7 linked regions of the Homo sapiens genome follow. The protein of the gene in region 2 interacts with the protein of the main gene of each other region in a pairwise test. Each region holds a gene or a part of one and is shown on either strand. Other genes may lie near its edges.

The links.
Region 1: the proteins of BDKRB1 (region 2) and LAPTM4B interact in a two-hybrid assay, tested with the Homo sapiens proteins (one large-scale study listed by BioGRID and IntAct).
Region 3: the proteins of BDKRB1 (region 2) and NAGPA interact in a two-hybrid assay, tested with the Homo sapiens proteins (one large-scale study listed by BioGRID and IntAct).
Region 4: the proteins of BDKRB1 (region 2) and LTAP1 interact in a two-hybrid assay, tested with the Homo sapiens proteins (one large-scale study listed by BioGRID and IntAct).
Region 5: the proteins of BDKRB1 (region 2) and INSIG1 interact in a two-hybrid assay, tested with the Homo sapiens proteins (one large-scale study listed by BioGRID and IntAct).
Region 6: the proteins of BDKRB1 (region 2) and NAP1L4 interact in a two-hybrid assay, tested with the Homo sapiens proteins (one large-scale study listed by BioGRID and IntAct).
Region 7: the proteins of BDKRB1 (region 2) and HHATL interact in a two-hybrid assay, tested with the Homo sapiens proteins (one large-scale study listed by BioGRID and IntAct).

Annotation. Positions count from the first base shown.
Region 1 is NC_000008.11:97,813,285-97,817,861, reverse strand, and holds part of LAPTM4B (lysosomal-associated transmembrane protein 4B), read right to left. Parts: intron 2,535-4,577; coding exon 2,461-2,534; intron 1,805-2,460; coding exon 1,682-1,804; intron 1-1,681. UniProt on the Homo sapiens protein: Required for optimal lysosomal function. Blocks EGF-stimulated EGFR intraluminal sorting and degradation.
Region 2 is NC_000014.9:96,262,237-96,266,340, forward strand, and holds the end of BDKRB1 (B1 bradykinin receptor), read left to right. Parts: exon of another isoform or gene 1-375; intron 376-415; 5' UTR 416-534; intron 535-1,436; 5' UTR 1,437-1,446; coding exon 1,447-2,508; 3' UTR 2,509-2,527; downstream 2,528-4,104. UniProt on the Homo sapiens protein: This is a receptor for bradykinin. Could be a factor in chronic pain and inflammation.
Region 3 is NC_000016.10:5,023,706-5,028,078, reverse strand, and holds the end of NAGPA (N-acetylglucosamine-1-phosphodiester alpha-N-acetylglucosaminidase precursor), read left to right. Parts: coding exon 1-99; intron 100-185; coding exon 186-233; intron 234-699; coding exon 700-801; intron 802-880; coding exon 881-944; intron 945-2,393; coding exon 2,394-2,601; 3' UTR 2,602-3,235; downstream 3,236-4,373. UniProt on the Homo sapiens protein: Catalyzes the second step in the formation of the mannose 6-phosphate targeting signal on lysosomal enzyme oligosaccharides by removing GlcNAc residues from GlcNAc-alpha-P-mannose moieties, which are formed in the first step.
Region 4 is NC_000001.11:154,207,801-154,211,062, reverse strand, and holds part of LTAP1 (protein C1orf43), read left to right. Parts: intron 1-3,262. UniProt on the Homo sapiens protein: General regulator of phagocytosis. Required to uptake Gram negative bacterium by macrophages.
Region 5 is NC_000007.14:155,303,957-155,308,533, reverse strand, and holds part of INSIG1 (insulin-induced gene 1 protein), read right to left. Parts: intron 294-4,577; coding exon 264-293; coding exon of another isoform or gene 176-263; 3' UTR 1-175. UniProt on the Homo sapiens protein: Oxysterol-binding protein that mediates feedback control of cholesterol synthesis by controlling both endoplasmic reticulum to Golgi transport of SCAP and degradation of HMGCR.
Region 6 is NC_000011.10:2,981,872-2,986,448, reverse strand, and holds part of NAP1L4 (nucleosome assembly protein 1-like 4), read left to right. Parts: intron 1-4,577. UniProt on the Homo sapiens protein: Acts as a histone chaperone in nucleosome assembly.
Region 7 is NC_000003.12:42,699,436-42,704,753, forward strand, and holds the start of HHATL (protein-cysteine N-palmitoyltransferase HHAT-like protein), read right to left. Parts: upstream 3,364-5,318; 5' UTR 3,144-3,363; exon of another isoform or gene 3,106-3,143; intron 2,087-3,105; exon of another isoform or gene 2,032-2,086; intron 1,756-2,031; exon of another isoform or gene 1,753-1,755; coding exon of another isoform or gene 1,697-1,752; exon of another isoform or gene 1,677-1,696; intron 1,405-1,676; coding exon of another isoform or gene 1,392-1,404; coding exon 1,286-1,391; intron 391-1,285; coding exon 323-390; intron 1-322.

The sequences.
Region 1 (4,577 bases), on a different chromosome or scaffold from region 2:
TCTCAGCACTTTGGGAGGCCAAGGTGGGCGGATCACCTGAGGTCAGGAGTTCGAGACCAGCCTGGTCAACATGGCAAAACCCCACCTCTACTAAAAAAAAAATACAAAAATTAGCCAGGCATGGTAGTGGGCGCCTGTATTCCTAGCACTCTGGGAGGCCGATGAGGGTGGATCCTCTGAGGCTAAATGTTTGAGACCAGCCTGGAAAAGATGGTGAAACCCCATCTCTACTAAAAATACAAAAAATTAGCCAGGCTTGGTAGCGGGTGCCTGTAATCCCAGCTACTCAGGAGACTGAGGCAGGAGAATGGCTTGAACCCAGGGAGGCGGAGGTTGCAGTGAGCCGAGATCACAACACTGCACTCCAGCCTAGGTGATAGAGTGAGACTCTGTCTCAAAAAAAAAAAAAAAAAAAAGTAAAGTTGGCCTGGTACAGTGAGTCACATCTATAATGCCAGCACTTTGGGAGGCCAAGGCTGGAGGATCACTTGAGTCTAGGAGTTTGAGACAAGCCTGGGCAACATGGTGAAACCCCATCTCTACATAAGATACAAAAAGAAAAATTAGGTGGGCATGGTGGTGCATGCCTATAGTGCCAGCTACTCAAGAGGTTGAGATGGGAGGATCACGGGAGCCTGGGAGGTCAACGCTGCAGCAAGCCATAATCACACCACTGCACTCCAGCCTGGGTGACAGAGACCCTGTCCCAAAAATAAATAAAGTTATTCCAACCTCATAGCCATTATAAGCTTCTTAATACCCTGCCACCAATATTCACTCATATGGTCACAAAGGACATTTAACCGTAAACTAGTCCCAAAATGATGCTTGAGAAAGGGATTCTATGGTCAAACAAATTTGGGAGCTAGTATACAGCAGTGTTCCACTTTCTTTCCACTTTCTTTTGATTTTTCTTTTTTTTTAGATGAGATCTCACTCTATTGCCCAGGCTGGAGTGCAGTGGCGTGATCTTGGCTCACTGCAGCCTCCACCTCCCAGGTTCAAGCAATTCTCCTGCCTCAGCCTCCCGAGTGGCTAGGGTCACAGGCGTGTGCCACCTCTCCCAGCTAATTATTTTGTTTGTTTTTGAGCAGAGTCCCACTTTCAACACACTAGCAAAGGCAAAAAGCTATCCTTTGTTGATAACTGAGAAAACTACATTTTACCAAATACGACTATTAGTAACTGGACTATAATTTAGGTAGGCACATCAACCACCACCATCACTGCCACCAATCATAACCCCGGCCCTCAAAACTTTATCAGGCCAGGCACAGTGGCTCACACCCATAATCCCAGCACTTTGGGAGGCCAAGATGGGTGGATCACCTGAGGTCAGGAGTTCAAGACCAGCCTGACCAACACAGTGAAACCCCATCTCTACTAAAAATACAAAATTAGCCAGGTATGTTGGTACATGCCTATAATCCCAGCTAGCTGGGAGGCTGAGACCCTGGAGGCAGAGGTTGCAGTGAGCCGAGATCGCATCACTGCACTCCAGCCTGGGTGACGAGAGCAAGACTCCACCTCAAAAAAAAGAAAAAAGAAATTTCCTATGAGTAACTCAGCTGCAAGCTAAAAATCCTGAAATTAATGTCTGTGTATCTCTACACATCCCTTACTTAACCAGCTTCCCTAATGAAAAGAATTAATGAAAAGGAGCAGTAAGAGGTCCACGTACCAGTTGCCGTATGTATTCCTGAATGGAGTTTGGATAAATAAGCACAGTGATTGCAACCAACATGTTCAGGGCAAAGTCAAAGATCTGGTAACAGAAGAATGGGATGATCCAGGCTGCGCGTTGCTAAACAGAACAGAAAATAGAAAGTTAATGTGTTCAATATTATAAAACAATATTTTTCTTAAATTCAAAGTATTTTATTAATCTGAAAGGAAATGGAAAAATTGGAATTCATTAACCCAGGTCATGGTGGAAACCAGTATGCCAAATATAAGCAGTCAACAAATAAGCTTCAGTGAACATTTCCAGGACTGGCTGTGTGTGGTGTCTCACACCTGTAATCCCAGCATTTTGGGAGGCTGAGGTGGGTGGATCACTTAAGGTCAGGAGTTCGAGACTAGCCTGCCCAACATGGTGAAATCACGTCTCTACTAAAAAATACAAAAATCAGCAAGGTGTGGTGGCACACACCTGTAGTCCCAGCTACTCTGGAGGCTGAGGTGGGAGAATCACTTGAACTTGGGAGGCGGAGATTGCAGTGAGCTAAGATCACACCACTCTACTCCAGCCTGTGTGACAGAGTGAGACCCCGTCTTCCCAAAAAAAAAAAAATTTCCAGTATAATATTGGTTTTCCTAGTACCACATAATACAAACGAGAGATTTAAACAGAGATTCTTAACAGAAAACTGGAAAGTCACTTCTCACTATAGACAGCAGCACAGATTACACATGTAAGAGACCAAGGAAAAGGCCAGCATCTTACTGCAAGCGGCTTACCTTGTACGCTCCGTAAGTAGCCATAGCACATATCAGGATCATGAGAAGAGAAATCGCAATGGCAATGCACATGTCTGCCGAAAGATTAAAAAGAATTTCTTTAAAAAAGACAATCAGTAGTGGATCCACTGAATACTTTCAGTCTCTTCTCAAAGGCATTTTGTAAATAAACTAGCATAAAGTTAGTAAATACTTTATACTAAGAGATTATTTCAAAATAGAAAAAGGGATATTGGTTTACAGATTTTTTTAATGTTTGTTCTTCTGGTCCACTGGATTATATAAATAATGAATTAGGTATTACTTTATAGATATATAGGTGTCTAACTTCTATTTTGTAAACTCATGTGTGCCTCAAAGCTCTAATGAAAGCCTTCATAGCTTCCGATCTTATTTAAAATAAAAACTCCGGCCAGGTGCGGTGGCTCACACCTATAATCCCAACACTTTGGGAGGCCGAGGAGGGCGATCACGAGGTCAGGAGATTGAGACCATCCTGGTTAACACAGTGAAACCCCATGTGTACTAAAAATACAAAAAATTAGCCGGGCGTGGTGGTGGGCACCTGCTGACCCAGCTACTTGGGAGGCTGAGGCAGAAGAATGGCATGAACCTGGGAGACAGAGCTTGCAGTGAGCCGAGATCGCGCCACTGCACTCCGGTCTGGGCGATAGAGCGAGACTCCATCTCAAAAAAATAAATAAATAAAAATAAAACCTTCATTTCTTATCAAGGCCTTGATGTTCCTCTTTATTCCAGAGCAGTCTACCTCTCTAATCTCGCCTCACCTTGTCCCACTCTCTTGCTTGCTCTAAGACAGCCATATCATCTGGTTCATTCTATTTTATTTATTTTTTCTTTTTTCTTTTTATTTTTTTGAGACAGAGTCTCACTCTGTCGCCCAGGCTGGAATGCAGTGGGACAACATTGGCTCAATGCAAATTCCGCATCCCAGGCTCAAGCAAGTCTCCCAGGCTCAAGCAAGTCTCCCACCTCACCCCCTAGGTACCTGAGACTACAGGTGTGCTCCACCATGCCAATTTTTATATTTTTAGTAGAGACGGGGGTTTCACCATGTTGGCCAGGCTGGTCTCGAACTCCTGACTTCAAATGATCTGCCAGCCTCGGCCTCCCAAAGTTCTGGGATTACAGGCGTGAGCCACCATGCCTGGCCTTCAACTTCTTTTTTCCTTTAGTCAATCTCTGGTAAATAAGGAGTCTTGTTTGGTCTCCCAATCTGGAGTTGCAGTGGTGTGATCATGGCTCATTGCAGCTTCAATTGCCTGGGCATTGTCACTATGGGATTATAGGCATAAGTCACCGCACCCGGACAAAAATATCTTAAACCAACTTGGCAGGTACACAACTGCTTGTAGCACCATTATTTGCTACGGGTAATAAATATTTTATAAATATTCTTTTATACCTACTCAATATTTAATAAGAAATAATTTTATAAAAATGAACCCCAAACTATTGGTTTTTTTAAACTGCTTTTCCTAGATCTGGCAGAACAAATTATTGTCAATGAGAAAAATAATATTGGTTTTCATTGTACATGCAACTTCTCTAAAAGCTTTGCATTTTTTCGACAGAGATCTAGAGGGGAAAACATAATCTGCATACTAAATCTCTACTAAATTGCAAATCACATCCTGATTTCAAAAACATTAAAATGTAAACAACAACAATAAAATGCATTGGAGAAGCAGCCGGTGAGCACGTTAAGAGCATGAAAGGAGGAATACTGGACACCAGAGCTGATCTAACTCCTTCTTAGCCAGTGGCAAACAGGACCTCAACAGATCCAGGGGATTCTGTAGGCTTAATGCATCTGGAGTGTCAACTTGACTGGACTGAAGGATGCAAAGTATTGTTCCTGGGTGTGCCTGTGAGGGCGTTGCCAAAGGAGATTAACATTTCAGTCAGTGGACTGGGAGACGAAGACCCACCCTCAATCTGTATGGGTACCATCTAACCAGCTGCCAGCCTGGCTAGAATAAAGCAGGTAGGAGAAGATGAAGAGCAGACTTGCTGAGTCTTCCGGCTTCCATCTTTCTCCCGTGCTGGATGCTTCTTGCCCTCGAACATCAGACACCAGATTCTTCCGCTTTTGG
Region 2 (4,104 bases):
CCTGGCTTTGTCATTCATCGCGTGGGGACAGGTGCAGCAGAAGAGAGCAGACAGAAGCACAGGATCTCAATCAGGCTCTTGAATCAGACTGCCTGGGTTTGAATCCAGGCCCTACTGACCAGCTGTGTGACCTCAGACAGGCGACTCCGGGTCTCAGCACTCAATTTTCTAATTGGCCAACTGGAGATGACAATGGCCCCTACCTTGAATGGCTGCCAGGAAGATTAAATGAGAAAATACTTAAATGTGAAACACTTAGAATGGCGCCTGGAACACAGACCATTAATACCATCTAACAGATGTTAGTTGTTATCCTTATTTATTACTCATGCTTTCCTTTCTCTTTTTTCTTTTCTCTCTCTCTCTCTCCTTTTTTTTTTTTTTTTTTTTGTTGTTGTTGTTGTTGTTGAGACAGGGTCTCAGTCCGTCGGCCCAGACTGAAGTGCAGTGGCACAATCATAGCTCGCTGCAGCCTCGACCTTCCAGGCTTAAACGATTCTCCCACCTCAGCCTCTCGAGTTGCTGGGACCACAGGTATGCACCACCATGCCCAGCTAATTTTTGTATTTTTTGTAAAGACAGGATTTCACCATGTTGCCCAGGCTGGTCTTGAACTCCTGGGTTCATCTGATCCATCTGCCTTGGCCTCCCAAAGTACTGAGATTACAGGTGTGAACCACCACACCCGGCCAATACTCATGTTTTTCAAGCCTGTAAGAGGAACCTCCTAGCACTGTCCCCACCCCGGCCACCACACTGGTCCCAGCCCCAACAGGTCAGCTTCCTTTGCTGTTCCCGGGCTTCCCTCAGCTCTATCTCAAGCCATGACCTCTGCCTCCATGTCTGCAGCCCCATGAGGCTGGGGCTGCTCTGTCCTGCATATCTCCAGTGCCTGGCAAGGGGCTGGCAAGAGGTAGAGGCTCATTAAATGCCTGTTAAAACCCTAATAGTAATAATAATAATGGTACAGTTGTTACTAAGACTAATCACTACCTTCCAAAGTCTTTCCTCTATGCAAGGCACGGAGCTAAGCACCCTGTAGATCCTGACAACAGCCCTCCCGTGATCCCACAAGAGAGACACGATTCTCTCCAATGTTTAAAAAGGAAAGTAAAAGTCAATGGTTCTAAGTAGCTCACACTGAGTGATTGTACCGGGATTTGGACTCAGGCACCATCCCTTAAACCAGAGGTCAGCAAACTTTTCCCCCTCAGGAACAGATGGTAAATATCTTCAGCTTTGCAAGCCAGACAGTCTCTGTTACAAGCGCTCGACTCCCCCTTGTAGCATGAACACAGCTGTAGATAATACGTCCAGGAATGGGTGTGGCTCTGTGCCAATAAAACTTTATTGTCCAAAAACAGGTGACAGGTTGGTTTGGCTCATAGGCTGTAGTCTGCCACTTCCTGTTTTATTCTACCTTCTGTTCATTTCAGGTCACTGTGCATGGCATCATCCTGGCCCCCTCTAGAGCTCCAATCCTCCAACCAGAGCCAGCTCTTCCCTCAAAATGCTACGGCCTGTGACAATGCTCCAGAAGCCTGGGACCTGCTGCACAGAGTGCTGCCAACATTTATCATCTCCATCTGTTTCTTCGGCCTCCTAGGGAACCTTTTTGTCCTGTTGGTCTTCCTCCTGCCCCGGCGGCAACTGAACGTGGCAGAAATCTACCTGGCCAACCTGGCAGCCTCTGATCTGGTGTTTGTCTTGGGCTTGCCCTTCTGGGCAGAGAATATCTGGAACCAGTTTAACTGGCCTTTCGGAGCCCTCCTCTGCCGTGTCATCAACGGGGTCATCAAGGCCAATTTGTTCATCAGCATCTTCCTGGTGGTGGCCATCAGCCAGGACCGCTACCGCGTGCTGGTGCACCCTATGGCCAGCCGGAGGCAGCAGCGGCGGAGGCAGGCCCGGGTCACCTGCGTGCTCATCTGGGTTGTGGGGGGCCTCTTGAGCATCCCCACATTCCTGCTGCGATCCATCCAAGCCGTCCCAGATCTGAACATCACCGCCTGCATCCTGCTCCTCCCCCATGAGGCCTGGCACTTTGCAAGGATTGTGGAGTTAAATATTCTGGGTTTCCTCCTACCACTGGCTGCGATCGTCTTCTTCAACTACCACATCCTGGCCTCCCTGCGAACGCGGGAGGAGGTCAGCAGGACAAGGTGCGGGGGCCGCAAGGATAGCAAGACCACAGCGCTGATCCTCACGCTCGTGGTTGCCTTCCTGGTCTGCTGGGCCCCTTACCACTTCTTTGCCTTCCTGGAATTCTTATTCCAGGTGCAAGCAGTCCGAGGCTGCTTTTGGGAGGACTTCATTGACCTGGGCCTGCAATTGGCCAACTTCTTTGCCTTCACTAACAGCTCCCTGAATCCAGTAATTTATGTCTTTGTGGGCCGGCTCTTCAGGACCAAGGTCTGGGAACTTTATAAACAATGCACCCCTAAAAGTCTTGCTCCAATATCTTCATCCCATAGGAAAGAAATCTTCCAACTTTTCTGGCGGAATTAAAACAGCATTGAACCAAGAAGCTTGGCTTTCTTATCAATTCTTTGTGACATAATAAATGCTATTGTGATAGGCTAAATGATTACTCCCGTAGATTGGGGGGTACCTAATCCCTGGACTTGATGAATGTTACCAAATTAAGGGTCTTGAGATGGGGAGATGATCCTGAATTATCCAAGTGGGCCCTATATAATCACAAGGGTCCTTATAGGAGGGAGGCAGGAGGCTCAGAGTCAGGAGATGTGACTATGGAAGCAGAGGCCAGAGGAATTCAGGACGGCCACTACGAGCCAAGGATTGCAGGCACCCTCTAGAGGCTGTAAAGGGCAAGGAAATGGCTTCTCCCCTGGAGCCTCCAGAAGGAATGGGTCCTGCCAACTCCCTGTCTTCAGCCCAGGGAAACAGATTTAGGATTTCTGGCCTCCAGAACTGTTAGAGGATACATTTGTGTTTTGTTTTGCTTTGTTTGCTTTGCTTTGCTTTGCTTTTTTGAGATGGGGTCTCGCTCTGTCACCCAGGCTGGAGTGCACTGGCACAATCACGGCTCACTGCAGCCTCAACTTCCCAGACTCAAGGGATCCTCCCACCTCAGCCTCCTGTAGCTGAGACTACAGGTGTGCACCACCATGCCTGGCTAACTTTTCTATTTTTTGTAGAGATGGTGTCTTCCTGCATTGCCTAGGCTGGTCTCAAACTCAAGGGCTCAAGTGATCCTCCACTTTGGTCTCCCATAGTGCTAGGATTATAGGCGTGGCCACTGCGCCTGGCCCCATTTGTATTTTAAGCCACCGAGTTTCTGGTAATTTGTCATAGCAGCAGCAGGAAACAAATAACAAGTATCGGGTAATGGCCTCTCTTATTACACTTCCATTTGTCTATTCAAAGCTTTCTAGGCTAACTGCCAGGAATACAGGGATGGTATAGCTAGAAGTTCTATATTCAAGGAACTTACATACATCTAAATATTATAATATAAAAAATGAAATGAGAAATTGCATGAACACACCACGGATCCAGCATCTTGCGCCTTCAGCGAGAAAGGGGATGGGTTCCCTCTCAGGTTAGCAGAGAAGACGCTGTGAAGGGAGTCAGCCGTGAGCCTGGTTTCCACAAAGGGTGCAATCTGGATACGTGGAGACAGGGAGGAAGGGCTGGCAGAGGCGGGAAAGGGTGAGCTGCTCACAAAAGAATGCTTGTGCATGCTCTTATTGAACGTGTAATGCATTGGTGCGGGTCTTGCTATGAGAGACCCAACGGTGAGCCTAACGGTGTCTCTACCCTCCAGGGGCTCACAGCAACCAGGACAATAATTAAGGGATTGTCATAGAGCAGGATGCCCGCCACCATCAGGGTGAGGGGTGCCGTGAGAACCAGAGCAGGGCTCCAGTCTGGGTGGCTGGGAGGGATGGTTAGAGAGGGGTTCCTGGAGGAAGAGACACATAAACTGAATCCCAAAAAATGAGAAGCTGGCCAAGCAAAATGGGGGAAAGGAGTGTTCCAGACAGAAGGAACAAAGTAGGCCCAGAGGCAGGTGGGGTTACAGGTTAGGAGGGAGAGGTTGAAGGATGGCAGAGGAGGAGGCGGGTCATGGAGAGAATT
Region 3 (4,373 bases), on a different chromosome or scaffold from region 2:
GGCACTGCCAATGCACCGGGCACTTCTGGCGGGGTCCCGGCTGTGATGAGCTGGACTGTGGCCCCTCTAACTGCAGCCAGCACGGACTGTGCACGGAGAGTGAGTGGGGGTTCTGGGGAGGGGGCTCTGCCCAGCCCTGCCTTGCCCTAGGCCCTCACCTGGCCTCCCCGGTCTTGTCTCGGCAGCCGGCTGCCGCTGTGATGCCGGATGGACCGGGTCCAACTGCAGTGAAGGTAGGAGCTGCCACGCCACTAGCGGATGGGGAGACGGTGGCCCCCGGCAGCCCCCACTGCTCCTCTGCTGCTTCTGTCTCCACCTTCTGGTCTGGGAAATGCTTGCCTCTTGTCTTCTGCCCCGGCCTCACCTGCACATCACTGTGTGACTCCCCTGTGGCTGCTGCGGCCCGTTCCACAAAGGGCTCGGCTAAAACAAGGGTCCCCGGGCTCTGGCTCCAGGGCCCACCTCAAATCCAGCACGGTCTTATCTTGAGATCCTAACTGCAGTGCCTCTGTAGAGATTCTGCTTCCAAATAAGGTCACGTTCAGGGGCTAGTCCAGGGAGGGCAGGGGGTGCTTCACCTTTAGCCCGGCTCTGTACACATGGGCAGGGGCAGGTATCCTGTCCTGTCGAGAAAGGCTCTGACACTGGAGGCCCCAACCTTTCTCCTCCCTCCTCCCTCCTCCCATCTCCTTTCCATAGAGTGTCCCCTTGGCTGGCATGGGCCGGGCTGCCAGAGGCCTTGTAAGTGTGAGCACCATTGTCCCTGTGACCCCAAGACTGGCAACTGCAGCGTCTCCAGAGGTACCTATCCCTCCAAGGGGAGGGGTATGGGCAGACGCTCCTGCTCCGGCCCCTTCAGCCTGTCTCTGGTATGTTACAGTAAAGCAGTGTCTCCAGCCACCTGAAGCCACCCTGAGGGCGGGAGAACTCTCCTTTTTCACCAGGTAGGTGCTTCTGTGGGAGCTGGGGCCAGGGCGGGAGGAATCCCCCTTCTCTCCCGCACCCTTCCCCTGTGAGGTCCATCTCTGCCCTTGTCCCCTGCCAGCTCCCTGCCTTAGAGGAAGCGGGACCAGCTCTCCCCACTGTCTGCTTTGGGGACCCTGGAGCAGAGCCCAGGGCCTTCGAGTGCCCAGCCTCTGTTGTCAGCATCCCCCACTGGAGCTCAGAATGCAAACTGGGCTAGATGAGATCCCAGGGTGGGGGCAGGAGGTTTCCTCATTCTGTCACCCAGGCAGAAGTGCTGTAGTACAGTCAGCTCACTGCGATCCTCCCGCCTCAGCCTCCCAAGTAGCTAGGACGACAGGCACGTGCCCCCATGCCCGGCTAATTTTATTTCTTACTGTTTTTTAGAGATAGGATCTCACTATTTTGCACAGACGAGGTGCACAGTCCTGGGCTCAAGTGATCCTCCCACCTTGGCCTCCCAGCCCCCATGCCCAGCATCCAGCTGTGTTTTATTTGGCTTACATAATTTTTAAAAAGTTAAAATATATCAGCAGCATCTAAAAATCAGTAACATTCACATTTTTTTAAACTTTTTTTTTTGAGACGGGGTCTCACTCTGTTGCCTAGGCTGGAGTGCAGTGGTGCGATCTCAGCTCACCACAACCTCCGCCTCCTGGGTTCAGGCAATTCTCCTGCCTCAGTCTCCTGAGTAGCTGGGATTACAGGTGCCCGGCTAATTTTCATATTTTTAGTAGAGACAGGATTTCGCCATGTTGGCCAGGCTGGTCTTGAACTCCTGACCTCAAGTGATACGCCCGCCTAAGCCTCACAAAGTGCTGGGATTGCAGGCATGAGCACCACGCCCAGCCTTAAAAACCTTTTTAATGGCTTCTCTTAAAATATCAGGCCAGGCGTGGTGGCTCACGCCTGTAATCCTAGCACTTTGGGAGGCCGAGGCAGGTGGATCACTTGAGGTCAGGAGTTCAAGACCAGCCTGGCCAACATGGTGAAACCTGGTCTCTACTGAAAATACGAAAATTAGCCAGGCGTGGTGATTCGAGCCTGTAGTCCCAGCTACTCGGGAGTCCAAGGCAGGGGAATCGTTTGAAGCCAGGAGGCGGAGATTGCAGTGAGCTGAGATCATGCCACTGCACTCCAGCCTGGATGACAGGGCGAGACTCTGTCTCAAAAAAAAAAAAAAAAAATCAGGAGATGGGGCAGCACGGACCTGCATTGTACGTCATGACTGCCTCTGCTGTTCCCTGCACATGTCTTAAATGTTGCCCCATCCCCACCTAGTCCATTTTGCTCATAACATTCCCTGTGTGGTCCCTGGAGGCACCTGATTTAGTGCTATCTATGCCGGGTAGAGGGAAGCCCCTCCAGTGCTACCCAAGCCCTGAGCCCACCCAGCAGTCCCCCACTTGGGGCTTCTCTCCTGTCTGCAGGACCGCCTGGCTAGCCCTCACCCTGGCGCTGGCCTTCCTCCTGCTGATCAGCACTGCAGCAAACCTGTCCTTGCTCCTGTCCAGAGCAGAGAGGAACCGGCGCCTGCATGGGGACTATGCATACCACCCGCTGCAGGAGATGAACGGGGAGCCTCTGGCCGCAGAGAAGGAGCAGCCAGGGGGCGCCCACAACCCCTTCAAGGACTGAAGCCTCAAGCTGCCCGGGGTGGCACGTCGCGAAAGCTTGTTTCCCCACGGTCTGGCTTCTGCAGGGGAAATTTCAAGGCCACTGGCGTGGACCATCTGGGTGTCCTCAGCCCCTGTGGGGCAGCCAAGTTCCTGATAGCACTTGTGCCTCAGCCCCTCACCTGGCCACCTGCCAGGGCACCTGCAACCCTAGCAATACCATGCTCGCTGGAGAGGCTCAGCTGCCTGCTTCTGGCCTGCCTGTGTCTGCTGCCGAGAAGCCCGTGCCCCCGGGAGGGCTGCCGCACTGCCAAAGAGTCTCCCTCCTCCTGGGGAAGGGGCTGCCAACGAACCAGACTCAGTGACCACGTCATGACAGAACAGCACATCCTGGCCAGCACCCCTGGCTGGAGTGGGTTAAAGGGACGAGTCTGCCTTCCTGGCTGTGACACGGGACCCCTTTTCTACAGACCTCATCACTGGATTTGCCAACTAGAATTCGATTTCCTGTCATAGGAAGCTCCTTGGAAGAAGGGATGGGGGGATGAGATCATGTTTACAGACCTGTTTTGTCATCCTGCTGCCAAGAAGTTTTTTAATCACTTGAATAAATTGATATAATAAAAGGAGCCACCAGGTGGTGTGTGGATTCTGAATCATGGACTTAGGTCACTGCTAGGGCTTAGCAGGTGTGGCTTATCCTGAAACAGAAGTCACAACGGCATCCTGGAGCCAAGTCCTGTTCCCTGCTTGTTTAATCCAGTGCTTATCAAACTTTAATATGCCACAGGTCACGAGGAGATCTTGTTAAAATGCAGATTTGGGCCTGGGGTGAGGCCAGCAATTCTGCGTTTCCAACAAGCTCTCTGACGATGCTGATGCTTCAGGTCCCCAGACCACACTTCTTGTCTTTCTTAGAAACAGGGTCTCGCTCTGTTGCCCTGGCTGGAGTGCAATGGCACGATCTCGGCTCACTGCAATTTTGACCTCCTGGGCTCAAGTGATTCTCCCACCTCAGTCTCTCAAGTAGCTGGGACTATAGGCACATGCCACCATGCCCAGCTAATTTTTAAAATTTTTTTTGCAGAGAAGGGGTGTCACTGAGTTGCCCAGGCTGGTCTCAAGCTCCTGGCCTCAAGTCAACCTCCTGCCATGGCCTCCCAAAGTGCTGAGATTACAGGTTCGAGCCACTGCGCCTGGCCCCTGACCATAATTTGAATGACCAGGGCTTAGTTTTTCCTCACAGTATTTTTATAGAATTTAAATTAGTTACCCATGTTTAAAAGTCAAGAGATTTTAAAATAAATAAGGGCGGGGGTGCAGTGGCTCACGCCTGTAATCCCAGCACTTTGGGAGGCTGAGGTGGGCGGATCACCTGAGGTCAGGAGTTCGAGACTAGCCTGGCCAACATGGCAAAACCCCGTCTCTACTAAAAATACAAAACAGGCATGGTGGTGGGAGCCTGTAATCCAGTTACTCAGGAGGCTGAGGCAGGAGAATCGCTTGAACCCGGAAGGTGGAGGTTGCAGTGAACTGAGATCGCACCGCTGCACTCCAGCCTGGGCAACAGAGCAAGACTCCATCTCAAAAAGTCCAGAGATTGACAAAAATTCCAGCTTGCTGGTTTCTCTTTAAAGATCTGGCAGCCCTGGTGGGCGCCTGCACAAGTCACCAGGCCAGCTCAGATTCAGGGAGAAGGGAAACGGGCTCTGCCTCTTAAAAAGGAGCTGCAAAGTCAGGCGCCTTAGAGTCATTCAGGTGTATTCCTAAGAGCAGTTCCCAAGCCTGGCTGCA
Region 4 (3,262 bases), on a different chromosome or scaffold from region 2:
TGCACTTCAGCTGGGGTGACAAGAGCATGACTGTCTCAAAAAAAAAATAAAAATTAAAAATTAAAAAAATCTATTTTTACTACCACTTAAAGTATTAGTAACCATGTCTGAAACAAAGGCCATCGCTATAGAGTCAGCTGTTGAGCATTTGTGTCACAGGAGAGGATTCATGGCTTTTGTTTGGGAATGTTTTTAATACACACTAAACATAGTCTCGTATTTTCATGCAAATGTTAAAATCAAAGTTCTTGGCGAGAAAGGAAAGCCAATCTAGAGTAAAAACTTAGGCCGGGCGCAGTGGCTCACACCTGTAATCCCAACACTGGGAGGCCGAGGCAGGTGGATCATCTAAGGTCAGGAGTTCAAGACCAGCTTAACCAACATGGTGAAACCCCATCTCTACAAAAATACAAAAATTAGCCGGGCATGATGATGTGCGCACCTGTAATGCCAGCCACTCAGGAAGGTGAGGCAGGAGAATCGCTTGAACCTGGGAGGTGGAGGTTGCAGTGAGCCAAGATCGTGCCATTCCACTCCAGCCTAGGCGACAGAGCGAGACTCCATCTCAAAATAATAATAAACAGTTAGTTACCAGCCATAAAAATAATCTGTTTTCTGCTATGTTGAATATTGCTCTTTTTCAAGAGCTTAAGGGGTATGTCTCTCCTGTCTTCTCTCTGTCCCTAAAAATGAGCTACGTTGTCTTAAAAGATGAAAGGGCCAAGGCCTGGAGCAGTGGCTCACGTCTATAATCCCAGCACTTTGGGAGGCCAAGGTGGGCGGATCACTTGAGGCCAGGAGTTGGAGACCAGCCTGGCCAACATGACAAAACCTCATCTCTACTAAAAATATAAAAATTAGCCTGGTGTGGTGGCACATGCCTGTAATCCCAGCTATTCCAGAGGCTGAGGCAGGAGAATTGCTTGAACCCAGGAAGCAGAGGTTGCAGTGAGCCGAGATTGTGCCACTCCAGCGTGGGTGACAGAGCAAGAGTCTGTCTCGAAAAGATGAAAGGTCCTAGTAAAAACTGCTTAGAAGGCCAGCTGCAGTGGTTCGTACTTGTAATCCCAACACTTTGGGAGGCTGAGATGGGTGGATTACTTGAGCCCAGGAGATTGAGACCAACCTGGGCATCATAGTGTAACCCTGTCTCTACTAAAAATAAAAAAATTAGGCCAGGTGTGGTGGCTCACGCCTGTAATCCCAACACTTGGAGAGGCCGAGGCGGGCGGTTCATGAAATCAGGAGAGCGGGAACATCCTGGCTAACGTGAAAACCAGTCTCTACTAAAAATACAAAAAAAAAAAAATTAGCCGGGCGTGGTGGCGGGTGCCTGTAGTCCCAGCTACGTGGGAGGCTGGGGCAGGAGAATGGCATGAACCCAGGAGGCGGAGCTTGCAGTGAGCCAAGATCGCGCCACTGCACTCCAGCCTGGGCAACAGAGCAAGACTCCATCTCGAAAAAAAATTAGCTGGGAGTGGTGGCGACCACCTACCTGTAGTCCCAGCTACTCAGGAGCTGAGGTGCGTGTACCACTTGTGCCTGGGAGGCAGAGGTTGCAGTGAGCCAAGATCATGCCACTGCCCTCTAACCTGGGCAACAGAGTGAGACACTGTCTCAAAAAAAAAAAAAAAAAAAACTGCTTAGAGCACTGATGAAAATGAACATGTAGAAAGGCTGGAAAAGGGCATTTGGTCTAGAAGTCAGCAGAAGCCTGTTCAAAATTCACTTTCTTTGAAAGATAAATACTAGATGATTCCAGTTATATGAGATACCTAGGTAGTCAAACTCAGAGACAGAAAGTAGAATGATGGTTGCAGGGGCTGGAGAGTGGGGGAAATAGGGAGTTGTTCACTGGGTATAGTTTCAGTTTTGCAAGATGAAAATGTGGAGGTTGGTTGCACAACACTGTGAATATACTTAACACTACTGAACCATACATTTAAAAATTCTTAAGATGGTAAATTTTATGTTACATGTATTTTACCACAATCTTTTTAAAAATTATTTCTGAAGGCCAGGCATGGTGGCTCACGGCTGTAATCCCAGCACTTTGGGAGGCTGAGGCGGGTGGATCACCTGAGGTCAGGAGTTCAAGACCAGCCTGGCCAACATGGTGAAACCCTGTCTCTACTAAAAATAGAAAAATTGGCTGGGCATTGTGGTATGCACCTGCAATCCCCAGCTACTCGGGAGGCCGAGACAGGTCGCTTCAACCTAGGAGGCAGAGGTTGCAGTGAGCCAAGATTGTGCCACTGCACTCCAGCCTGAGCAACAGAGAAAAAGACTCCATCTCAAAAACAAAAAATTATGTTTGATTTGTAGTTTCTAGGAATGTTCATTGGGTTTAGTGAAGAGTATAGGCTTTGAAATCTGACAAACTTAGGTTTGAATCCCAGGTCTGTCACTTAACTAGTTTTGTGACCTCATACAAGCTAATTATTGGACCCTTAGTTTCCTAATCTGCAAAACAAGGTGATACCTATATTGGGGATACCTGTCTCTGAAAAAAAAGCTTGAGCCAGAGGCAAGAACTCTGGGAAATTGGTTTCTCTGCTGCTAGTTGTTTTTGGTATGAGTAGGTGTGTGTCAGGGTACCCAAACAGGGCCTTTATTCTGTCACCCAGGCTGGAGTGCTGCTACTTTTTTAGGGTGTGTGTGAGAGAGAGAGACAGGGTCTCAGTCTGTCGCCCAGACTGGAGTGCAGTGGCACATTCATGGCTCACTGCAGCCTCGAATTCTGGGTTCAAGCGATCCTCCTGCCTCAGCCTCCTGAGGAACCAGGACTACAGGTGCTTGCCACCATACCTGGCTAATTTTTTGCAGAGATAGGGTCTCACTTTGTTTCCCAGACTGGTCTCAAACTCCCCTGGGCTCAAGCGATCTCTGGCCTCTGCCTCCTGAAGTGCTGGGATTACAGGTATAAGTGACCATGCCCAGCCTCTCTGCTACTTTTTTTTTTTTTGAGATGGAGTCTTGCTCTGTCACCCAGGCTGAAGTGCAGTGGCGCAATCTTGGCTTGCAACCTCTGCCTCCTGGGTTCAAGTGATTCTCTTGCCTCAGCCTCCCGAGTAGCTGGGATTACAGGCACCCGCCACCACTCCCAGCTAATTTTTGTATTTTTAGTAGAGACAGGGTTTCACCATGTTGGCCAGGCTGGTCTCGAACTCCTGACCTCAAACAATCCACCTGCCTGGGCCTCCCAAAGTGCTGGGATTACAGGCGTGAGCCACCGCGCTCAGCCTCTTGTATTTCTAAGCTA
Region 5 (4,577 bases), on a different chromosome or scaffold from region 2:
CTGCCTGAACCCACGTAGCCTGGGCAGAATGCTCCAGGGCACAGACAGGCGCCAGTGCGGGCAGTCAAGGGAAGACTTCAGGGTAAGTCATCATTCTCCACCTCCCTATTCTAGACTAGGTGAAGAGTTTTTTCCAGGAGTCATTTGTACAGTCAGCCCGATCTAAATAGATTACTTAAGAAAAAAGATAATCTTTGTCATAATCCACAGTCAGATTTTCTTCCAAAATCTTCCTTGCTCTCAGAATCGGTGGTTTTGAAGACTCAATCACTATGGGGCTTTTCAGGAACACCCTATGTGTAGAAAGGAAAAAAAAAAGGAAAGAGAAAATTAGCACTAAATGTATAAATATTTTAATTACCAATTAAGTAGGTCCTAACATGGGAAAGATTGACACTTTCTTTGACTGAAGCAACAAGATTGAGAGGTGGGACATGTGCAGAGAACTGGAGACCGAGGCCAGCTCTCCCAGCTCCCCTGCACCGTCTTCATGGCTCTGGCCCCGTGAGCCACAGCTCTCACCTGCAAAATTAGGATAATTCTCTGCCTCAGGTGAAATTACGCTGCTGAGGCCCTTATATAAAGCCTGTTATATAAGTGTAAGATATTGGTGAAAGTTTAACTAAATTAATATCTATATAAAGGAAACACCCAATTTTATCAAAGCATGGTGATGCTTAGGGTATGATAGGTTCCTGAAAGTTCTAACTGCAATTTAAGGGATTGAACCTTTATCTGAAGGGAGGTTTCTGCCACAAACCTTTATTAGTATCTGATGCCTGTGTTATAACCCACCTTACCAGCAGTTTGTTGAAACAGACATTGGAAATAGGTCATGCTTTGTAATACTGAAGCTCTGTGTGCCCTCAATTCACACAGAGCTTCACAGTTGGGAAATCCTTTCTACATGTTCTTCCTCATCTGACCCTCACAGAGCTTCTGAGAGGTAGACACTACAGTTACTACTATGACCAGGCACCTCAGGGTAAATTCTTAATGGAGAACAGTATTTCACTGATGAAGAAGCAAAGCCAGAGAGATTAAATGACCTTCCTGAGGCCACGGAGCTTCTGCTAAAGGGCAAAAGAGAAACCTCCATACAGAATTTTTTTCCCTCAGAATCGTGACTTCCCACGTTACTTAATTGCCCTCCACTCACTTTAAGAGGAAGGAGCTGAGCTCCTCACCTTCAGCAATGACGGAGATTACTCATCCAGAAAACAGCAAGAGCCTCTCATCTGAACAGACAGGTAAGAAAGTCATGAGTCTGGGTTGAGTCACCCAGGTATGCCAGTTACTACCCTGGGGACACACACAATAAGACCTTCTAGGAAACATACATGCTTTTAGGAATTGATCATGTGAAAGCACTGCCAATTTTTAGATATGAACACTGGGAGGGTTCTATACAAACTGCGGTGAGAAAACAAAAGAGCAAACTCTTGGCAGCAACCTGGAAAGAAAACTGGTCATCACATTTGACTCCCTGTTCACTAATGTGCTGATAAATAAATGGGAAGTGGACTTTTAGAATCCCTGGTCGACAGAGGCCACAGTGAGGCCTGGCAAAGACGCCAGAGACGAACGACAGCCAGCCCGGGCGGACCTGACACGTGGCACAGGGACTTCCAGCAGTGTTGCCTAATGGTGGCACATTGTAAATGGCAACCCAGACACCAACACAGGCTGCTGTAAACCTGCTTCCAGGGTGAAGGCAGGTGCGAGCTATGTGTTGAAAGGGCAGTGTGGTATGCTAATGAGAAGCACGGTGCCACGTCGACCTCTGCCACCCACTTGGCCAAGTTGTTTAATCTTCCTAAGCTGCAATTTCCCCTTTTAAAAATGGGCTAATAATAGTTTCTACTTCAAAGACTTGTGTTATGAGGACTAAACTGGCTAACAATGGAAACGCTCAGCACAATGCCTCCTGTGCAGCAGTAAGAGCCCAACAAATGTAAACCCTCAATAACAATAATAGTATTATTATCATTAGCAGCTGAATTGGGTCAATCAAAAACAGGAACGGCAAATCAAATCCCAAGCTGACACTGAGGTGGGCGGGACTCTGCCTCCAGGTGGCCCAGTGGGGCCGGGCAGTGGCAGCAGGACAGGCTTGATTGCTGTTGGCAGTTTGCAGCTTACTCTTGAGAAAGGACTTGAAGCTACAAACAGCAACAACTACAAGTTCTATAAATGATGGTTACAGACTCATTTTCTTTTAAACATACAGGCTGGGCCGGGCGCGGTGGCTCATGCCTGTAATCCCAGCACTTTGGGAGGCAGAGGCAGGTGGATCACCTGAGGTCAGGAGTTCGAGACCAGCCTGGCCAACGTGGCGAAACCCCGTCTCTACTAAAAACAGAAAAATTAGCCAGGTGCGGTGGTGGGCGCCTGTGATCCCAGCTACTTGGGAGGCTGAGGCAGGATAATCATTTGAACCTGGGAGACGGTTCAAATGCAGTGAGCCAAGATTGTGCCACTGCACTTTAGTCTGGGTGACAAAGCAAGACTCCGTCTCAAAAAAAGTAAAAATAAAAACAAACAAAAAGCAAACAAAAAAACCGTAACAGGCTGATAACAAATGTTTCTGCTGTATTTTCGGACACAAAGGACAACGGCATGTGTGGGGGGAAATACCACATAGAAAAAGCTAGGAGACCATATAACTTGAAGCAAAGCCAACTTGTAACTTTTGAGCATGGTTATTCTTGCAAGTAACTATGTTTCTTCTTAAGGGAGGGAAGCATAAGTTAGAACAAAGGCATCTGAAGAGAACTGAGACAGCTAAGAAGGAGAGGGTGTGGAGTGCACTGGGCAAAACCATCAGCACCAAACACAGACCTCAAATTACCCTGGATCTGGGCGGGTCTGGTCCCGGTGCTGAACTGAGCCTCGGAATCTCTTCACCTTCAGACTGTCAACAACTTCACTCTCGTCATCTCCCTTCACAAAGCCTTACTTGGTGTAGGTTTCAACCTTAAACCAATAGCTCTTAGACACTATCCCTGGAACATTCAGCCACTTCCATTTTGTGAGTCAACAGTATGACAAGAGTGGAATGTGGGGAAGGCTGCCCTGGGAGAAAACACGCACCACGAATGCAACCTGGGGCACAGCCTGAGGAACGGATGCAGCAGGAGGGAGGGGACTGCACTGTGAAGCCCCTGGGCCATTTCCGGGGTTTGATGGATAGAAATGAGTTTGCAAATTTTGAAGTGAAAAAAAGAGTAACAGTTGGGATCCAGAGGTAAGGATTTAAGTATTTATGAATAAAAACAGTGGTAGGCGGGTTAGGCTTAGAACCTCAGAGGTCAGTTTCATGTGATAGCCCAGCAGGGAAGGGGATTAAGGTGGTGATCTCTCTTCTCCAGTTTTTTTTTTTTTTTTTGAGACAGAGTCTTGCTCTGTCACCCAGGCTGGAATGCAGTGGCACAATCTCGGCTCATTGCAAGCTCTGCCTCCCGGGTTCACGCCATTCTCCTGCCTCAGCATCCCAAGCAGCTGGGACTACAGGTGCCCACCACCACGCCTGGCTATTTTTTTTTTTTTTTTGTATTTTTAGTACAGACGGGGTTTCACTGTGTTAGCCAGGATGGTCTCGATCTCCTGACCTCGTGATCCGCCCGCCTCAGCCTCCCAAAGTGCTGGGATTAAAGGCGTGAGCCACCGCGCCCAGCCTCTCTCCTCCAGTTTTAAGATACGAGAACATCCAAACATTTTCCCCCAAGCTTAAAGAATAAAAAGGATGAAGAGAAAGCTGAAGTAAGGAGAATTATAATTACACCAACTATCCTATTTTGAGTTATCTTTAACATTTTTTTCTGTAAGCAAAGGAGCACAGCAGGGATTACTTAATGAAACTATCTTCAAAACGAAAATGTTTCCTCCAACCATTTCTAGATGTTTAGAACTTATGAATGTTGTGAAATTTCTACCTCCACCAAAATAATGCTTATTTCTTAAAACCGATTTAAAAAGCCTTGACATATAACAGCACCAACCTATCAAACAGAAATAACCAACTCTTTAAATGTTATTCAAGTTGTAGTTATAATGTGTAATTAGTCAATCTGGTTGAGGACAATTTTATTCTAAAAACCTTCTTAGGAATTCTCTCCCAAAGAGTACCGAAACAAAAATCTCAAAGCAAGAAAGCAATGATGGAGTTGCCAGCTCTCCTTTGAAGACTATTAACGGGGATGATGGCGAATGCATGAAAACAACATACTATTTCCATGTGGGACCATCCGACCAGATTTTTAATATTAAAAAAAGCAAGGCCAGGCTCACGCCTATAATCCCAGTGCTTTGGGAGGCCAAGGTGGGAGGATGGCTTGAGCCCACGAGTTCGAGCCCGGCCTGGACAAGGCAGGGAGATAACATCTCCACAAAAAGCAAAAAAGTTAGCCGGGTATGGTGGCATGTGCCTGTAATCCCAGCTACTCGGGACGCTGAAGCGGGAGGATTGCTTGAGTCCGGGAGCTCAAGGTTACAGTGAGCTATGATGGCACCACTGCACTCCAGAGCTCTGTCTCAAAAAAAAAAAAAAAAAAAAAAGGCAAGCAAAGTCCTTTCTT
Region 6 (4,577 bases), on a different chromosome or scaffold from region 2:
CGACTACACTCTCTAGCTTTGTCTCTCAAACGTGGCCCAATTTTTTTTTCCTTTCTTTTTCTTTTTTTTTTTTTTGAGACAGGGTCTGGCTCTGTCGCCCAGACTGGAGTCTAGTGGGGCAATCTTGGCTCACTACAACCTCCGCCCCCCAGGTTCAAGCAGTTCTCCTGCCTCAGCCTCCTGAGTAGCTGGGACCTCAGGCGTGTGCCACCATGCCCAGCTGATTTTTGTATTTTTAATGGAGATGGAATTTCACCACGTTGGCCAGGCTGACCTCGAACTCCCGACCTCATGTGATCCGCCCGCCTTGGTCTCCCAAAGTGCTGGGATTACAGGCGTGAGCCACCGTGCCTGGCCATGGCCCAATTTTATAGTTACTCTAGCTATGGAGTAGATGTTTTCAGTTCAAAATTAGGAATTTAAGGTTATATTTTGTTACAAAAATCTTTAAAAATTTCATAAGAAAACAGTTGTTTGGGGTACAAAGAAATTAATCCATAAATAGGATTGTTACAGTGACTAATATAAATAAAAGAACATTTGTGTAATCATGGGAATTATTTTATTTTATTTTTCCTCGACCCAATTAACTGGGTGAAAATTTGCTTGCCAGTTCAGATTTAGAATTGTAGACACAGTTAAAGTTTTTGACCTTGGGAGGGAACCTGAACTTTAGAAAACTTACAACATTCTTTTGCCTGGTATCCCTTTCATAATTTAACTTGATTGTCTTTTATTTATTTTTAGTTATTATTTATTAACACAAAATTATATTTATGATGTATAATGCGATGTTTTGAAGTACTATACATTGTGGAATGGCTAAGTCAAGTTAATTCACATTAGGTGGTATACTGATTCTGACAAGAACACTTAACATCTACTCTCAGCAATTTTTCAATTATGTGATACATTGTTGTTAACTATAGTCACCAGGTTGTATAGATCCCTTGATTGCCTTTTAAAAGTGAGAGAACCTTCTGGATGAGTCTTCGGGCTGTGGTTTTATAAGACTAGTATTAAACTGAACATAACATTTAAAACAAACAGATATTTATTTTCCTCAAACCTGTATATTTGATAGTTCCTTATAACTTTCTGTTTTAAGGGTGATAGGGATTGATAAACAAAAATAATTTGTGGTGCTGAAACTTGACTGAACTCTAGCTTGTTTATAATACCACCTCTCTACATTGTCTTTCCTTATTCAGGTTGAGCACTCCTGATCCCAAAATCAAAAATCCAAATGCTCCAAATTCTGAAACTCCGTTAGTGTTGACATTAATGTTACAAGTGGAAAATTTCACACCTGACTTCACGTGATGGATCACAGTTAAAACTTTGTTTCATGCACAAAATTATTTAAAATATTGTATAAAATTACCTTCAGTCTATGTGAATAAGATGTGTGGGAAACGTGAATGAATTTCATGTTTAGATTTGGGTCCCATCCCCAAGATACCTGATCATGTTTATACAAATATTCTAAAATCTGAAACACTTCTGGTCCCAAGCATTTCAGATAAGAGATACTCAACCTGTATAAAGGGTGCAGTGTTTAAAGTAACTTGATTTGTTGGTTTCATATCAAGGAATAGATGTAGTCTATATGCATGGCAGTTACAAAAGTGAAAAGAGACCTGGCCTGCTGTTATGTACTAGGAAATTTGTCTCCATTAACAGTTTCTCAGGTAGCCACTGTCTTCTAGTTTGTGGATGATGAAACTGAGGTCCAGAGGAAGGTTATGCAGAAGAGCATGAGTGGGAATGAGTATGGGGAAGTAGACAGGGCCTGAATTGGTAGGAATGTGTATTCTGCAGAAGGTGACGGGGGACCATTGAAGTGTGTTTGTTAGTTTTTTGTTTGTTTGTTTTTTGAGACAGAGTTTCGCTCTTGTTGCCCAGGCTGGAGTGCAATGGCGAGATCTCGGCTCACTGCAACTTCCGCCTCCTGGGTTCAAGAGATTCTCCTGCCTCAGCCTCCTGAGTAGCTGAGATTACAGGCATGCGCCACCATGCCCGGCTAATTTTGTATTCTTAGTAGAGACGGGTTTCTCCGTGTTGGTCAGGCTGGTCTCGAACTCCTGACCTCAGATGATCCGCTCGCCTCGGCCTCCCAAAGTACTGGGATTACAGGTGGGAGCCACCACACCTGGCCTTTGTTAAAGGGTTTTTAAATCTTCACTGACTAGGGCTGGGTTTGGGTTGCTGCTGTGGTCGTGGTGGTGAGCATAGCCAGCCATTGTAGGGTTTGTTGCCTTTTTTTTTTTTTTTTTTTTTTTGAGGCAGGGTCTTGCTCTGTTGTCCAGGCTGGAGTTCAGTGGCGCAGTGATAGCTCACTGCAGCCGCCAGGCCTCCAACTCCTGGGCTTGAGTGTTGCTTCTGTCTCAGCCACTCAAGTAGCTGGGACCAGAGGCATCAACCACTGTGTCCAGCCTCATTTTTTTTTTTTTTCTTTTTGTTTTGAGACAGTCTCACTCTGTCTCCCAGGCGGGAGTGCAGTGGTGTTATTTCAGCTTACTGCAACCTCTGCCTCCTGTGCTCAAGCGATTCTCCTGCCTCAGCCTCCTGAATTGGGACTACAGGTTCACACCACCATGCCTGGCTAATTTTGTTTTTTTTGTTGTTTTTGTAGAGACGAGGTTTCCCCATGTTGCCCAGGCTGGTCTGAAACTCCTGAGCTTCAGGTGATCTGTGATAGGGGTAGGATTTGAAACCAGGCTGTTCAGTGTGTGTCTGTCTTGTTCTAGGCATTGAGTTCTGGGTTGGTTGGTTCTTTAGTCAAAATTATTTTCTTTTTTATTGTGTAAATTCATTATTTTTTTTCTATCCTTGATTTAGCACTTTTTTTTTTTTCCAGAATACCGTGTTGGGTTTAACTTAACTGCCTTGTCATCTTGTTAACAAAAATTGTATTAAACAGCACATGCCGGGCTGGGCATGGTGCCTCTGTCCTATAATCCCAGCACTTTGAGAGGCTAAGGTGGGAGGATCACTTGAGGCTAGGAGTTTGAGACTGCAGTGAGCTATGATCCTGCCACTGCACTCTAGCCTGGGTAACAGAGTGAGACTGTGTGTCTCTTTAAAAAAGCACAGCCTTCACTTAAATGAAAATTGAGTGAATCATTTTATCAATGGACTCTGTTAAGTTGGAACAGGTACCATTCCATGGGAAGGTGAACCTCTTTGGCTCATGTCCTAACACAGGTGGTTTATGCTTTCAACAGATATTTATTATGCCAGGAACTGTTAGGGGCTCTGGGGCTGCATAGTGAACAGCATCAAAAGGGAGTATTGTCACACTCCATTTGTAGACAAAATGGATTTCTTGGAGATGCTGCTGAACAGTAGGATTTCAACCCTGACTAAGCTGTTGCTTGTCACTTGTTCCAATAGCAGCAACAGGTTTTTTGTTTTTTGTTTTTTTTTGAGATGGAGTCTTGCTGTGTTGCCCAGGCTGGAGTGCAGTGGTGCAATCTTTGCTCACTGCAAACTCCGCCTCCTGGGTTCAAGCAGTTCTCCTGCTTCAGCCTCCCAGTTGCTGGGATTACAGGCGAGTGCCACCATGCCCAGCTAATTTTTGTATTTTTAGTAGAGACGGGGTTTTACCATGTTGGCCAGGCTGGTCTTGAACTCCTCACGTCGTGATCTGCCCGCCTTGGCCTCCCAAAGTGCTGGGATTACAGGTGTTAGCCCCCAGGCCCAGCCTAGCAGCAACAGAATCTTTAATGAGCAAGTAGAAACAGCCAGAAGTGAAGTGGTGTTGGTACTAGGGAAAGGTTAGAAGGAGTCAGATTTGAAACACGAATGCATGTTTTACTAGCCGTGTGACTTTCAATTTGGCACCTCACCTTTCCAAGCCTCAGCTTCTTTTCGTGTAAACTGAGGATAGTCCCTCCCTAGTGGAGTTTCTCTTGGTATTAAATGTATGAAGTGCCTGACATGTAGGTCCCTTGCTAGTATAGGAGGTGCTGGAAATGAAGTATGTGTCTTTACGAGGTGTTACTGATAGGGTGATGACAACAAGAATCTGTCCATTAAACTGACAGTGTTAGATGTTTCCAGGTTAGTAGGCTTCTTTCAGCAATTAGTGTGTATGTGTGGGGTAAGGAAGGTGCTATGAGATACATTTCTTAGGCAATAGAGAGCTTCAATTAAGTAGCCAAATTACAGTTGATGTTATTGTGTAACTGTTTTGGCAGTATGTATCAGAATCCATTCATGCTCTTTGACCCAGAAATGCTACTGTAGCGGTCCTGCTATTGCCATATCAATTAAGGATAACTGGGAGTGGGAAGCCATATAAGCCAAGATGTTCATAGAGACATTATCAAAGGTATATAACAGAAAAAAACACCTCATTCTTTAACAGCTGGTAAGTGGTGTTTTAGCTCTTAGAATGTTGTCCTTAAACAATTGTTATGAAGTCTGACTGTCTCACACCTTGCATTTAGAATATGTGAGAAGGGAACTAACCTCAGGAATACTGTGATTGCAGCAAACATGGTGGAGGAGCGTGAGTGGGAATGAGTGTGGGGAGGTAGACAGGGCCTGAATCAGTAGGAATGTGTATTCTG
Region 7 (5,318 bases), on a different chromosome or scaffold from region 2:
GCCGGGTCGCTTGAAGCTCCCCCTCTCCTCCGCACGTTGCCTGCCATTCCCCCTTTACTGCTTTGTTTCTGGGAAGGAGGTGCTGGAGGCTCCACTGAAGCACACTCCACTAATGCGACCTATTTCCCAAGTGAGCAGGGCCCGGGCAAACTTGATGTCCCAGGAGGATACAGGAGGGGCCAGTAAAGAAGCTGAAGGCACTGAAGCTCAAGCCAGAGGCCCCAGAGCTGTGAGAAGCTCTCTGTTACTTGCCAACATCTGGAACAGCAGAGAGCAGAGAAGGGTTCGGGATGGGAGGGACCCTGGGATGTGGGGGACCTACCATCTTCCGGCCAATGTACTCCCAGCCAGGTCGCACAGACTCCCGGAAGGCCTTCCTGTGGGCCCCATCTGAGAACAGAGTGTGGCCTCAGGGAGAGGGGCCTTCACATCCCCTGCCCCACCTTCCCCCGTGGACAAGGCTGCCCCACCCTGGGGAGCGAGGGCATCAGGAACGGGGCACGGGTCTGAGTCTCTTTGGTGCTGCATCTGCTTCTTTCTGGGTCTCGCTGTGTGTCTGGGTCCAGGACTCTGTGTGTGTGTGTGTGTGTTGGGGTGTGTGTGTATATGTCTGTGTGTTTGTGTGTGTGTCGGGGTCCAGGTCTCTGTGTGTGTGTGTGTGTGTCGGGATGTGTGTGTGTGTATGTCTGGGTCTAGGTCTCTGTGTGTGTGTGTCTGGGTCCAGGACTCTGTGTGTGTGTGTGTGTGTGTGTGTGTTGGGGTGTGTGTGTATATGTCTGTGTGTTTGTGTGTGTGTCTGCATCCAGGTCTCTCTCTGTGTGTGTGTGTCTGGGTCCAGGTCTCTGTGTGTGTATGTGTGTGTGTGTGTGTTGGGGGGTGTGTGTATATGTCTGTGTGTTTGTGTGTGTGTCTGGGTCTAGGTCTCTGTGTGTGTGTGTGTGTGTCGGGATGTGTGTGTGTGTATGTCTGGGTCTAGGTCTCTGTGTGTGTGTGTCTGGGTCCAGGCCTCTGTGTGTGTGTGTGTGTGTGTCTATGTGTGTGACTCTGTGTCCATCTCTCTGTCAGTGTCTCTGCATCTCTGTGTTCCTGTGACTGAACCTGGCTCCACCCAGCCTCCAGTGACTATCTGAGATGGGAACCCCGGGCTGAAAAGGGAGATCCAGCCGTGTTCTAGAAGGAGTACCCTAGGTCTGGAGCCTGTAACTTTCTGGCTTTGCTGGTTGGAACCCTGAGGCCTCCAGGGGAAGAAGGGTCCTGTCCACCTGCCCCGGGGCACAGCCATTACCTTGTGAAGCCTCAAGGAGGCCCCGGCCAGCATAGGCCAGGGCCCCACTCAGCACCAGAGAGTAGAGGCCCAGCTCAGCCGCCGGCAATGCTGTCTTGATGCCCATAGCCTGGACAGGGCTGGGGAGACAGGTTGGGTGAGGGAATTACAGTCTCCAGCCAAGCCTAGCCCCACCTCATGGTCCCACCACCCCAGTGGGGACCCACTCTGAAGAGAGATTGCCCCTCCAGCCCCTTGGGGACCTTGTACCATCACTCTGCCTGCCCCTGTGCCCCCCACAGTTCACAGGCCACCGAACACCAGTGCCCCATCCCAGCTGCTGCTCTTGCCCCCACCCCACCCATCAAGGCTCTTGCCCGCAGAGCCCTCACTCGCAGCCTGCCTCCCTCACCTTCATTTACATCTTCATACCTTCCAGAGGCACCGGCCCCACCCTCTGCCAAAACCGCTCCTGCCAAGGCCCCCATGACCTGCGTGCGGAGAAACCCCACCTCTATCACTACAGTCAGGTTTCTGCCTGCAGGGTCCCCACCTCGATCAGTGAGTCTCCCTTAGCTCCTCACAAAGCCCCAGCTTCTCTAAGACCCTTTCTCTGACTCCCACTCCCCTCCCTGAGATCCCATGACCACCCCAGGTGCTGCCCCTAGAGCCAAGCCTCCATCCTCGCATTAAGCCTCCAGCCTGTCACTGACCCCCATTCCCCCAACAAGTCCCTGAGCTCCAGCCTGTCACATCCCAGTCCCTGCCTGTGTCCGTGACCACACTGCCCCACTCTCTCAGCGCTCTGTGTATTCAGGCCCTGGGCACCAGCTGGAGGCTGTGCTATTTGAGGAGGTGCCCAGGAGTAGCGGATGTGGGGCCAGGCGGGGCCAGGCGGGGCCAGGGAGGGCACTGGCTGCTGTCCAAGGTGCTGACCAGAATCAGGCCCCGGCTGAGTCTCACCACTCCCTCCAGCGGGGGCCTAGCTTGTCCCCTGGAGAACTGCTGGGCCGTACTACGGCTCAGCTAGCACCTTTACCCTTCCTATCCCGCTTCAGCCTGGCTCAGGGGCTTCCCAAGGACTCCATGGATACAGACATAGGACCCAAATTAAAGGGAGGAAGCAGGGAACATGTCCAGGCAACTCTTGGGCTGACGGGGCCAAGAGGTGGCTGATGTGGCCCTTTTGCCCACCCTTGATCCTCCCCTAAATCTTCATCCCCAGCCCTGTAGCCATCTCCCCTGGGCCCCCCAGCAGCCGACGGTCTCCTCGTACAGATGGAGGGGTCATGGGCCAGATAGGGGCAGGGACCTGTCAAGGTCACATGGCAGACCTGGGACAGACTTCTGCCTGCCTCCCTTCAGGATTGGGTTTCTCAGTGACCCCCCTCTGGAATCTGGGGTAAGAGAAGACCACCACTGCCCCTGCCCACAGCAGAGGCTGCCAGCCTGATGGCTGTGCTGTCGGCCTGAGGGTGGAGGCACCTCCTCATCAGTTGGGTGGGGGTGGAGAGGCCCTGGGGATCAGGTTAATGGAGCAGGAGCTTGAAACCGGAGCATGGTGAAGAGCCCGTGAAATAGCTTTGTCAGCTGCCTCCCACTCGCCACTTTCCAATTTTAGCTCCCCATGGCCGGTGCGGGGTGTCCCCAGTGAGGCCTCTGCAAGGAGCTGGCCCCCAGCCTGGGGCCTCTCCTGATAGACCCCCAGACCAGGGCTGGCCTGTGGACACGGGGGCATACCCTTTCCCCTGGTCCTGCCTGCCCCAGATGCCCCGGGGGTAAAGCCCCTTTTGGGGCCTGTGATTTGGGATGAGGGCCTGGGGTGTGCCCCACAAGTCTCAAGAGCCCCAGAGTAGCTGCATCCCCAGCTGGCACTGACCTTGAGGAGGCCGCAAGGGACCCTGGCACACTGCCCACCTCAGGCTCTGGGGTCCGGCTTCCAACTGTCCGTCCGTGCGACCGGCTGAGCTCTGGGGCCACGGTGGGGTGTGTCCAGCCCTGGGGTCCCCACCCCCTTGAGGTTATGAGCGGTGAGTGGTGACAGCGGGAGGAGGAGGGGGAGGAGGAGGTGGCCTTCCTGGAGCGGAGCTGAGCAGAGTGGAGCAGAGCCGAGTGCTGCAGAGCTGCTGGCCACAGGGAGCCGCAGGGAGGATCCTTGAAGGGGGGCGGGTGCTGGGTGGGGGGAGGGTGTCCAGTAGCATAGGCTCAGACAGGGACACCTGGGCCTCTCTTCAGCCTGCCTCCCCTGGCTCCTAGAGAGCCTGTGCCTCTCTCTCACTGCTACCCAGGACTTCCCTCTTCCAGGAAGACTCCTGGTGGTCCCACCAGCCTCTCCAGGCTTGTAAGCCCTGCCCCCACCACAGACACACACAGTCACAACATGCAAACACTTTCATGCTTGGGCTCCAGGGACTCCAGCTCCTACCTTTACATATGACCTCCTAAGGGCTATCCCAGGGCAGACTTGTCTCGCCCCATGACCTGGTCCTTTTCATTATGCCGTGAGTCCTGGCTGGCCATGCATCAGTGCCTGAGGGAGGGCTGACTTGCCTGATGGGACTGGAACTGGCATGGGACATGTGGCTGAGAGGGATCCCCATAAGTCAGCCCTGTCCCATAGGGAGTGTCCTGGATGGAGGGGTGCTAGCAGGGTCACTTGGCAAGGCTTGTGGGTACTTGGAATGGCTGGTATCCTCTCGGTGGCAGAGTGGAGGCAGACAGGAAGACAGGTGTGTTCCTAACCAACTGGGAGTCCTGGTAGGACAGGGCCCTCATTCTGGAAGGGAGCATCCAAGGCCTCAGCCCTGGATACCTGAGGGGAGGGGCATCCTGAAGGTGCCCCTGAGATTAAGAACCTCTGACAGTGCCCCTTCGGTTGAGGCCAAGTCTCGGGCAGCTGTATGTGTCTGTGCTATCTAGGGGGACCTGTTCACCTGTGTGCTTGTGGGGAGGCTCTCGGGGGTAGAAGGAGCTTTGTGGCTGTGATCAGTCACAGGACAGCTCCTGGAGCCCCTGCTGATCCTATGACCCCAGCTTCAGGCTCAGTTGAGGAGGCAGGAGGGAGGTGCTGCTCCCCACCCATCAGGGCCCAGGAAGGGGAGAGACTGCACTTAGGCAGGGAGCTGCCTCCCGAGCACATAGACACGCTGGCCTGGAGAACAGCAAGGAGACGCCCAACCTACACACTCCACACAGGACACAGAGGCCCGTGTCTGTGGTCCCCGACCCTGAGAAGCATGAATGGTGACTACTGCACAGTGTGGGTGCTGGGTTAGAGCTGTGGTGGGTAATGGGCACTAGAGAGGCCAGCATCAGGAAGGGAAGGATACCTGAGCCAGACTTCAGGGTTAAGGAGGGCTTCCTCAGGGAGGGGTAGTCAAAGGTTGTTAGGAGTAAGTTAATCATAGTAGCCAGGATGTACATGGATTAACTTTTTAATGTCACCACAGCCCATAGGGAAGATGTTGCCACTGTACGCAGTTGGGAGAAGAAGGACCTGGCACATGAGGAAGCCAAGTAGTTGGATCAGCCCTGTAAGCTCCTGGCACTGACTGCCCTGCAGGGGCGACAACCCCGTGCACCCACACTGGGGCCCTCACGAGGCTCCAAGAAAATGGCTCAAGGGAGCAGACAGGGTGGTTTGACCCCAGAGTTAAGAACACAGGTTCAGCCAATTTACTTGACCCTGAGCTGGTGTGACCCACTTCTTAGGGCCTCAGATCCTCAGTTGTAAAATGGGCATACCGCTGGCCCTGGCCCTCACTGGGGTGGCAGGGGGCATCCGGTGATTCACTCCATGACAAGAGCCTTGCTCATAAACAGAGGCTATTAGAGAGCCACAGACACCCTGACCCCCAGAGGCCCAGAAAGGCTGGATTCACACTCAGAAGTGAGGCCTTCCCTGGGTGACCCACACACAGCAGGGTCTGCAGGGAGTGTGGTGTGCGGAAATGGCAAGAGGGGTGGAGGGCTAGGGAAGTCCCATGGATCTGTGGTTGGACAGCCTGAGGCCAGCTCCACTGTGTCTGAGGGGGGTGGCAGGGGAGGGCACCTG